Homo sapiens: one gene and its partner. The protein of the gene in region 1 binds, or shares a complex with, the protein of each later gene. Each region holds a gene or a part of one and is shown on either strand. Other genes may lie near its edges. The genes, in order: TAX1BP3 and KCNJ4. A codon is read from its position in the direction of its gene.

Evidence for each region.
Region 2: the proteins of TAX1BP3 (region 1) and KCNJ4 are in contact, whole or in part, in a crystal structure (PDB 3GJ9), measured with the Homo sapiens proteins. Residues at the interface, in NP_055419.1 of Homo sapiens: Leu27 (codon at 2,543), Ile28 (codon at 2,540), Leu29 (codon at 2,537), Gly30 (codon at 2,534), Phe31 (codon at 2,531), Ser32 (codon at 2,528), Ile33 (codon at 2,525), Gly34 (codon at 2,522), Gly35 (codon at 2,519), Asp38 (codon at 2,510), Gln39 (codon at 2,507), Gln43 (codon at 2,495), Asn44 (codon at 2,492), Thr58 (codon at 2,044), Arg59 (codon at 2,041), His90 (codon at 1,639), Asp91 (codon at 1,636), Arg94 (codon at 1,627), Leu97 (codon at 1,618), Thr98 (codon at 1,615); in NP_004972.1 of Homo sapiens: Arg440, Arg441, Glu442, Ser443, Ala444, Ile445.

Annotation. Positions count from the first base shown.
Region 1 is NC_000017.11:3,662,217-3,665,696, forward strand, and holds the end of TAX1BP3 (tax1-binding protein 3), read right to left. Parts: intron 2,583-3,480; coding exon 2,463-2,582; intron 2,057-2,462; coding exon 1,979-2,056; intron 1,670-1,978; coding exon 1,532-1,669; 3' UTR 679-1,531; downstream 1-678. UniProt on the Homo sapiens protein: May regulate a number of protein-protein interactions by competing for PDZ domain binding sites. Binds CTNNB1 and may thereby act as an inhibitor of the Wnt signaling pathway. Competes with LIN7A for KCNJ4 binding, and thereby promotes KCNJ4 internalization.
Region 2 is NC_000022.11:38,425,712-38,431,380, reverse strand, and holds the end of KCNJ4 (inward rectifier potassium channel 4), read left to right. Parts: intron 1-3,209; 5' UTR 3,210-3,248; coding exon 3,249-4,586; 3' UTR 4,587-5,054; downstream 5,055-5,669. UniProt on the Homo sapiens protein: Inward rectifier potassium channels are characterized by a greater tendency to allow potassium to flow into the cell rather than out of it.

The DNA of each region.
Region 1 (3,480 bases):
AGGAGAATTACTTGAACCCAGGAGGCGGAGGTTGCAGTGAGCGAAGATCACGCCATTGCACTCCAGCCTGGGCAACAAGAACGAAACTCCATCTCAAAAAAAAAAAAAAATTATTGACTTTTCTTTAAAATCTGATTTGGCAGTGCTAGGTAGGTCCAGGAGTGCTAACACCTTCCCAGAGGTGGTACGCAGGTAGTCAGGTGCTCTCTGACTCACCCCCATCTGGCCAGATCACGGCCCCCAGCAACACGTGGGGTTGTGTCCCTCGCTGGGATACACGGAGTGCCCTTATAGGCAGGGAGTCTTATAGGCAGGGGTCTCTCCCAGGCACCTCTGGGTGTCCCTACGGCCCCTCCCAGGTGGGAGCTGAGGCTAGGTTGCAAAAAGGAGGTTGGGAGCAAGTAGGGGCTTCACAGTAACACCCAAGAAAGCACACGCACCCCAGGGTCCCACCCCAGTGCTCCCAGACACTCCCACAGATGTGGTTCTGGTCAGGCGCAGTGCAGCTGCTGCGGCTCCACCAGCCCCGGGCTTTCAGGCAGGTGGGCCTGGGAGTAGTTGAGCTTTGTCCCAGAACAGTGGGGGATGGGGCCATCATTAAAACCACAGCTCTGGCCCCAATATCCCACCGCCACCCCCACCCCGATATCCCAGCCCATGCCTCAGCAAAGCCCCCTGTGAATTCCAGCATTTTTATTGAGCGCACCACATCGGGGAGGGGCGGCAGTGGTTTCCACGGTAACCAAAGTAAGGCTTGTGCACTTGCTGAGCTTCCAGATGCGAATTAGTAAAAGCTAAATTCAAAAGTAGAATGGGCATCTCCAAAGAGTACGATAAAAACATTTTGTATCAAACTTGTGATTAAAAAAATACAAAAGTTAAACCCACAGGCAAAGAGGAAAATGACAATCCTGAGAGCTGCCCTGATAGGTGAGCCTCGAACCTCGTCTAAATCCGTAAGAAGGCAAACCCTGGGGAGGCCAGCACCCCTCGGGAGAGTGGGAGTGAACGCGGAGCCCACCTGGCTTCATCTGGGCAAAGCTTCGTAGCGCCTCTGGCAGGATGTGTGTCCAGTCCCCCGAGGGGCAGAGGCACTGCGGTGTGGACACACGAGGGCTGGGGGGCAGGGGCGGAGCCGAACCCTGCAGCCAGGCAAAAGCGGGAAAGGCCTGGTTCCTCCAGCATTTCCCAGCTTTTGGGGGCTCCCAAGAGATAGTGGTTCCCACTTGCCCAGCCACTGCTGTGGCCAAGCAGCAGGGTCGGACCTGAGCCTGTGGTCACAGCAGACTGGCTACTACTCAGCTCCAGGCCCTTATTTCCAATCCTCGGTGTCCAGGAGAGAAAGCCGGTCCCAGAGGCCCCAGGCCAGGGATGGGAGAAGGGAAGGAAGGCCAGGCCAGGCCTCTGGGACCAGCTATAGCCCTTCTGAGCTGGGGCCCAGCGGTCAGCAGAAGCCAGATGGGGACAGAGTGTGGAAGTGGCGTTACTGTACAGAGAGGCGGCAGGCAGGAGTCGCAGATGGTGGTGGCTGCTAGGACAGCATGGACTGCTGCACGGCCTTCTGCAGCGACTGCCGCGTCACCAGCAGACGCACCACCTCCTCCGAGCGCTTGGTGAGCCGCTTGCGGGCCTGGTCGTGTGTGACCATGGTCATGTCCCAGCCGTTCACCTGGCCCCAGGAGAGAACACAGGCTCACCTCAGCTCCCCGCCCTCTGGGATCTGGAAGCAGAGGGCTTTGGGGGCCCAGGTCATTCAAGTAGGCCCCCAGCCTAACATCCCAGGGCTGGGAGACACCAAGCACTGTGGCTGAGACACACAGGAGAGAAAGCCAGCGTCCTCTGGGGCAATGCCAGTATGGGTTCCCAATTGGCTGCAGTGAGTCTCTCCCAGCTGGGAGGCTGGGGCAGCTCCCCACCCCCAAGTGCTTCAGACCTGCTTGCCCAAACCTTGTTTCTCCTCCTTTGGGACACCTGTTACCTGCATGATCTTGTCTCCAATCTGCAGCCCAGCGATTTCAGCAGGGCCTCCTTCAGACACCCGTGTGACATAAATACCCTGGAAAGGGGCAGCCCAAGTCAAGCCCTGTGGTCACTGGACTGGCCCCTTATCACACAGCGGAAGCCAGCATGGCACATTCTCAGCCGTCCCTCTGTCCCTGCACCCAGCCTCTCCCAGCACATATGGTCAGTGAGGACTGTTCTGAGAGAGCCGGGGCAGAGTTGCTGCACCACCATGCACCGGCCCTGCTGATGGCCGCCTCCTGCTCCTCCTGGGCTCTGTCTGAGCAGCCCTTCCTCACCCCACCCGTCCTTATTCTCACTAGGTCACTTCCGATGCCTTCTTAGAGAGCATGGTTTGAGAGATGAAGTCTGTTCCTTCCATGCAGGCCCAGGAAGCAGAGACCCACCATCTCAGGCCCCTGTGCCCCATGGAGCGGTCCCAGGACCCCAGACCCCCTCACCTTGTCCGTCTTGTCTTCAGAGAAGGGATTCTGGGAAGGATCCTGGTCGATTCCACCTCCAATGCTGAAACCCAGGATTAAGTTCTCACCTTGACGCAGCTTGTGAATTTCAACTCTTTGCTGGCAAAGAAAAAAGCCAGTTGAGAGAAGTGGGTGGTTGGAGAATTAGGCTGGTGGGTGTTCCCAGCAGCAGCCTCAGAGCCATGACAAGGGGCTGGGTCCCAGGCCCCTGCAGGAATCCAGCTGCTCACCAGCCTGGGAGGCTGAGGAGCTGGCACTCAGAACTTGGCCACATTGATCCACCCACACAGCCCTGTGTCCTCAACCTGTCCCCACTTCCCCTGTTAGTCTTAGGCACTAGTCTTGGTCAACATGTGGTGGAAGCCCCTGCTGGCCCAAGAGTCCAGGTGCTGTGGCTTCTGTAGGTGGGAAGCCCGTCTCACAGGAGGTGCTCTGGAAAAGCAGAGATCAAACTTGCATAGAAAGGAGAGGAAGGGGTTTCCTTTCGGCCGGAACCGCCATCTTCCAGTAATTCGCCAAAATGACGAACACAAAGGGAAAGAGGAGAGGCACCGGATATATGTTCTCTAGGCCTTTTAGAAAACATGGAGATGTTCCTTTGGCCACATATATGCGAATCTATAAGAAAGGTGATACTGTAGACATCAAGGGAATGGGTACTGTTCAAAAAGGAATGCCCCACAAGGGTTACCATGGCAAAACTGGAAGAGTCTACAATGTTCCCCAGCATGCTGTTGGCATTGTTGTAAACAAACAAGTTAAGGGCAAGATTCTTGCCAAGAGAATTAATGTGCGTATTGAGCACATAAAGCACTCTAAGAGCCGAGATAGCTTCCTGGAACGCGTGAAGGAAAATGATCAGAAAAAGAAAGAAGCCAAAGAGAAAGGTACCTGGGTTCAACTAAAGCACCAGCCTGCTCCACCCAGGGAAGCACACTTTGTGAGAACCAACGGGAAGGCGCCTGAGCTGCTGGAACCTATTCCCTATGAATTCATG
Region 2 (5,669 bases), on another chromosome or scaffold:
CTCAGAATTGACCCTGGGCACTCGATAATGGGGAGGAGTGGGCACTGCTGGCGAGGGGATGCCCAATCTCTGTAGCCATCAGGGGATCGGCTCCCTTACCCCCAAGGCCCCTCCAGAGGTGGGGAAGTCCAGGAAGAGATCTCGTCTGCAGCACCAGGTGAACTCGCCATGTCAGGAGGCAATCCCACCGGGCAGAGAACCAGGGATCCCCTGGAACCCTGGGCTTGTGTTTGGCCTTGGGCAGGGCCCCCCACCTTCTCTGGAGCTCAGTGACCTCACCCGTTGAAGGCCTGGGCCGCCACACCCTGTCCCCTCTGCCTCTATCCTGCACACCTGTGGATGGTGGTCCAGTTTGGACTGGCTGGTTTCTTCTCTTCCCTTGCCCCAAAACCCACTCCAGCCCCCTGCAGGGAGGAAGTGGATGAGGAGCTCTGGGGTGGGGGTGAGGCCTTGTTCAGGGCTGGCCCACCTGGCTCCACTCTGGGACTCTTAGCAAGTCCTTCCTATCTCTGGATGTCCTTGGTCTCCGATATAAAATGAGGGTCCTGAACTCGGTGACCCTATGCTCCTCCTGTCCTGACAGTCCGCGGTGCCCCTGGAGCCATTTCAGGCAGTGGGACAGAACAGGGGGAATACATTTAGCAAAGAAAGGCCTCCCTGAAAACTCTATTTACAGAGCAGAAGGTGTGCCTGGCCCCAGAACCCCAAGCCTTTCTCCTGGAGCCCTGGCTGCTGGGATGCTGCGGGAGGGGGCAAAGAGGGTCTGGGCCTCCCAGCTCTGAAGGGCCAGCATTACGTTAGAGGCCGTGCCTGCATGACCTGTCGGGTCTCCAGCATGATATCTCATTGGCCCAATTTTCTCATTTTCTTTTTTTTTCGAGACGAAGTCTCACTTTGTTGCCCAGGCTGGAGTGCAGTGGCACGATCTCGGCTCACTGCAACCTCTGCCTCCCAGGTTCAAGCGATCCTCCTGCCTCAGCCCCCCAGTAGCTGGGATTACAGGCACACGCCACCATGCCCGGCCTAATTTTTGTATTTTCAGTAGAGACGGGGTTTCTTCATGTTGGTCAGGCTGGTCTCAAACTCCCAACCTCAGGTGATCCACCCGCCTCGGCCTCCCAAAGTGCTGGGATTACAGGCGTGAGCCACCGCACCCAGTCAGCCCCATTTTCAAGATGAGGAAACTGAGGTTCAGAGTAGTCAACAGCTCGCCCAAGTCACACAGTGGATCTAGGACTTCAACCCAGGACTGTAGGAGCCAGGGAGCTCTTTGAGAACCAGGGGAATAGGGAGAAGAACTCGGAGTCAGGGTGGGTGACCGCGGGGGAGGAGGTGGGGGCAGGGCTCACTCTCCCTGGGCCCGGAGAGGGAGTTTCTCTTGGGAAGAGGCAGGCTCTGAGGCTGTTGATCTCTAAATTATAGCGTTGGCGCGTACCGGTTGCTGCGGCAACCGAGTTGTCCTGAACCGGGGAAGTGTATAAACATTGCCACAGATGCACAATTAGATCAGGAAGAAGAATAGAACAGAAAATAGAAACTTCCAGCCTTATGTAATTCTGGGCCAAAATGTTATTGGGAACCCAGGCCCAGTCCTGGCCCTGCCAGCTGCTGGGGCCTGGGGCAGCAGCATGTCTTCCCTGGGGACGCAATGGCAGAGAGGGGTGGAGAGAAGGTCTGTCCTCTACGGGCCCGAGGCGCATCCCGCCACCCAGTGGGGTGAGGGGCCTCTTCTGCTGCAACAGCTGGGGATGCTTGACAGGCAAATCCTGCCTGTCACCAGCTCCTGGGAAGTGTGGGAAGGAAGGCAGGAGGGTGATGGCTTTACCCCAGCACCTGCTGTCCCCGTAGGTCCCATGAGGTAGGGAGTTTTGGTGCCCATGTTACATGAAGACATGGAGGCTCTGAGAGGTGAACTGAATTGCCCGAGGTGTGTCCTCCCCTCCCACTCCCTGTCTCCCCGCCATCAACTCATTCATGTTGGTGCCACGCAAGTTTGTATCCACTGCCAGCTTTGTGGCTGGCAGGTGGCTTTCCATCTCTGAGCCACCTGGGACATGGGAATAGCGATGTCTACAGAGGAGTCAGAGCTGGGGGCTCCCCCTTCCTCCACCCTGACTGTCACATTGGATTCTCCCCTCACCACTGCTCCTAACAAGTGTGGGCACTGGGCAGGAATTTGGGCTCAAGGACTCAAAGCAACACTGGGAGAGAAGAGTCTAAGAAAGGAGCTCAGACCCAGGTGGGGCTGCGGGTCCCAGTAGAACTTTTTCTTTCTTTTTTTTTTTTTTTTTTTTTTTGACATGGGGTCTTGCTCTGTGACCCAGGTTGGAGTTCAGTGGCATGATCACAGCTCACTGCAGCCTTGACCCCCTGGGCTCAATAGATCCTCCTGCCTTAGCCTCCTGAGTAGCTGGTACCAGAGGCATGCACCACCATGCCTGGCTAATTTTCTTATTTTTTGTAGAGATGGGGTCTCACTCTGTTGCCCAGGCTGGTCTCAAACTCCTGGCACAAACAATCTTTGCATCTCGGCCTCCTAAAATGCTGAGATCACAGGCATGAGCCCCTGTGCCCAGCCAGAAATTTCTCAGTGATAGAACTCTCCTGTGTCTTCTCTGTCCAGTGTGGTGGCCGTTGACCACATGTGGCTCCTGATCACTTGAAATGTGGCTCATGCAAGGAAGGAGCTGCAGTTAATATTTTATTTCGTTTTAATTAAATGTAAAGAGCCACACGTGGCCAGTGGCTAGTGCACAGGAGGATGTCCAGCCCCCGAGAAGCCCAAAAGTGCAGAGATGGAATCCAGGGAGGGAAGCGGGCTTAGCGCCTCCGTGGCTCCCTATGCTCAGGGCAAGCAGGACAGAGGGACAGGGAGGAACCAAGATGGGCATCAGGAAGCTTCCAGAACAGTGAGCATAGGAGGGCCGGAGGGGCAGTGTTGAGGGGCAGGGACTAGGACCTGGATCCTTGTGGCTTTAGCTTCCTGGTCTATGGACCCCAGTCTCTAAGCTGGGCCGGACTGGGTGGCACTGGCTCAGACCCTGTCATCAGAGCCACCTCTGCTGCCACCCTCCGCCTGCCGGGGCAGAGGAAGTCTTAGGTCCTGGTCCAGGCTCACCTGCTTCTGAGAGTCTTGGGGCTGAGTCTGAGTGGCCCCGAGGGAGCCCCTCGCTCCCCAGCATCTCACCTGTCCGGCTTCTCCTCCGCAGGCCCTGCGTCTTCCCAGGTGACCACGCCGGCTTCAGGACATGCACGGACACAGCCGCAACGGCCAGGCCCACGTGCCCCGGCGGAAGCGCCGCAACCGCTTCGTCAAGAAGAACGGCCAATGCAACGTGTACTTCGCCAACCTGAGCAACAAGTCGCAGCGCTACATGGCGGACATCTTCACCACCTGCGTGGACACGCGCTGGCGCTACATGCTCATGATCTTCTCCGCGGCCTTCCTTGTCTCCTGGCTCTTTTTCGGCCTCCTCTTCTGGTGTATCGCCTTCTTCCACGGTGACCTGGAGGCCAGCCCAGGGGTGCCTGCGGCGGGGGGCCCGGCGGCGGGTGGTGGCGGAGCAGCCCCGGTGGCCCCCAAGCCCTGCATCATGCACGTGAACGGCTTCCTGGGTGCCTTCCTGTTCTCGGTGGAGACGCAGACGACCATCGGCTATGGGTTCCGGTGCGTGACAGAGGAGTGCCCGCTGGCAGTCATCGCTGTGGTGGTCCAGTCCATCGTGGGCTGCGTCATCGACTCCTTCATGATTGGCACCATCATGGCCAAGATGGCGCGGCCCAAGAAGCGGGCGCAGACGTTGCTGTTCAGCCACCACGCGGTCATTTCGGTGCGCGACGGCAAGCTCTGCCTCATGTGGCGCGTGGGCAACCTGCGCAAGAGCCACATTGTGGAGGCCCACGTGCGGGCCCAGCTCATCAAGCCCTACATGACCCAGGAGGGCGAGTACCTGCCCCTGGACCAGCGGGACCTCAACGTGGGCTATGACATCGGCCTGGACCGCATCTTCCTGGTGTCGCCCATCATCATTGTCCACGAGATCGACGAGGACAGCCCGCTTTATGGCATGGGCAAGGAGGAGCTGGAGTCGGAGGACTTTGAGATCGTGGTCATCCTGGAGGGCATGGTGGAGGCCACGGCCATGACCACCCAGGCCCGCAGCTCCTACCTGGCCAGCGAGATCCTGTGGGGCCACCGCTTTGAGCCTGTGGTCTTCGAGGAGAAGAGCCACTACAAGGTGGACTACTCACGTTTTCACAAGACCTACGAGGTGGCCGGCACGCCCTGCTGCTCGGCCCGGGAGCTGCAGGAGAGTAAGATCACCGTGCTGCCCGCCCCACCGCCCCCTCCCAGTGCCTTCTGCTACGAGAACGAGCTGGCCCTTATGAGCCAGGAGGAAGAGGAGATGGAGGAGGAGGCAGCTGCGGCGGCCGCGGTGGCCGCAGGCCTGGGCCTGGAGGCGGGTTCCAAGGAGGAGGCGGGCATCATCCGGATGCTGGAGTTCGGCAGCCACCTGGACCTGGAGCGCATGCAGGCTTCCCTCCCGCTGGACAACATCTCCTACCGCAGGGAGTCTGCCATCTGACCTCCAGGCCCGGCCCTCACCACTGCCCACAAGAGCCTCTGCCGGGGGTGGGATGCCAGGACACCCCCTCCCACACTCAGGACAGAGCCAACCCTGGCTCCGTGGACCTTCTGGAGGAAGGTGGGGGTTTCAAAGACTGGGGGACCCCTTCCTCCTGACTCCAGCACCCAGGCCTGGGAAGAGCTCGGCCCCGATCAGCCTGAGTTCCGCCAGCGCCTACTTCTGGTGGCTCTAGGTCCCCGGATCCACCACCCTTCCCCCACTGACTCTTCAAGGACGTGCCCTCTTTGCTCTCAGAACCTTGGGGAAGGTGGCTGGACTGCTGGGCGGGGGACATCTCGGGGTTTCAGGGTGGGCAGGGGGTTAGTTTGGGGAGGGGGGGGTGCGTTTCTTTTGCATGACTGTGGCCTGTTGCTCATGACTTTCTTTTGTAAATATCTATAAATGGAGACAGATGGAGACACCAAATTCACTTTCTGCCGTTTTTACCTGCTGGACAGGGAGATGCAGTCCCTCTCTGTGCACCCCTCCCCACCCAGCCCATCAAGCCTAGCGCCTTCCCCTGCCCAGCTGGCTGGCCCCTTGAGGCCCTCAACGCCAGCCACCTTGGCCCTTGGATGGTGTTGGGTTTGGGTGCAGAGGAGGGACTCTGAGGGGTGGGATGAGGGACCATCCCTCCCTCCCTGCAGTCCCTCCAGCCCCGGGCCCAGCCCAGATTGACAACAGAGTTTGTAACCATATATATATATATATATATATATTTTTTTTTTATTTTTTATTATTATTTTTTTTTCTTGAGACGGAGTTTTGCTCTTGTTGCCCATGCTGGAGTGCAATGGAGCAATCTCGGCTCACTGCAACCTCCGCTTCCCAGGTTCGAGCGATTCTCCTGCCTCAGCCTCCTGAGTAGCTGAGATTACAGGCATGAGCCACCATACTCAGCTAAGTTTTGTATTTTTAGTAAAGATGGGGTTTCACCATGTTGGCCAGGCTGGTCTCGAACTCCTGACCTCAGGTGATCCACCCACCTTGGCCTCCCAAAGTGCTGGGATTACAAGTGTGAGTCACCGCACCCAGCCGTAA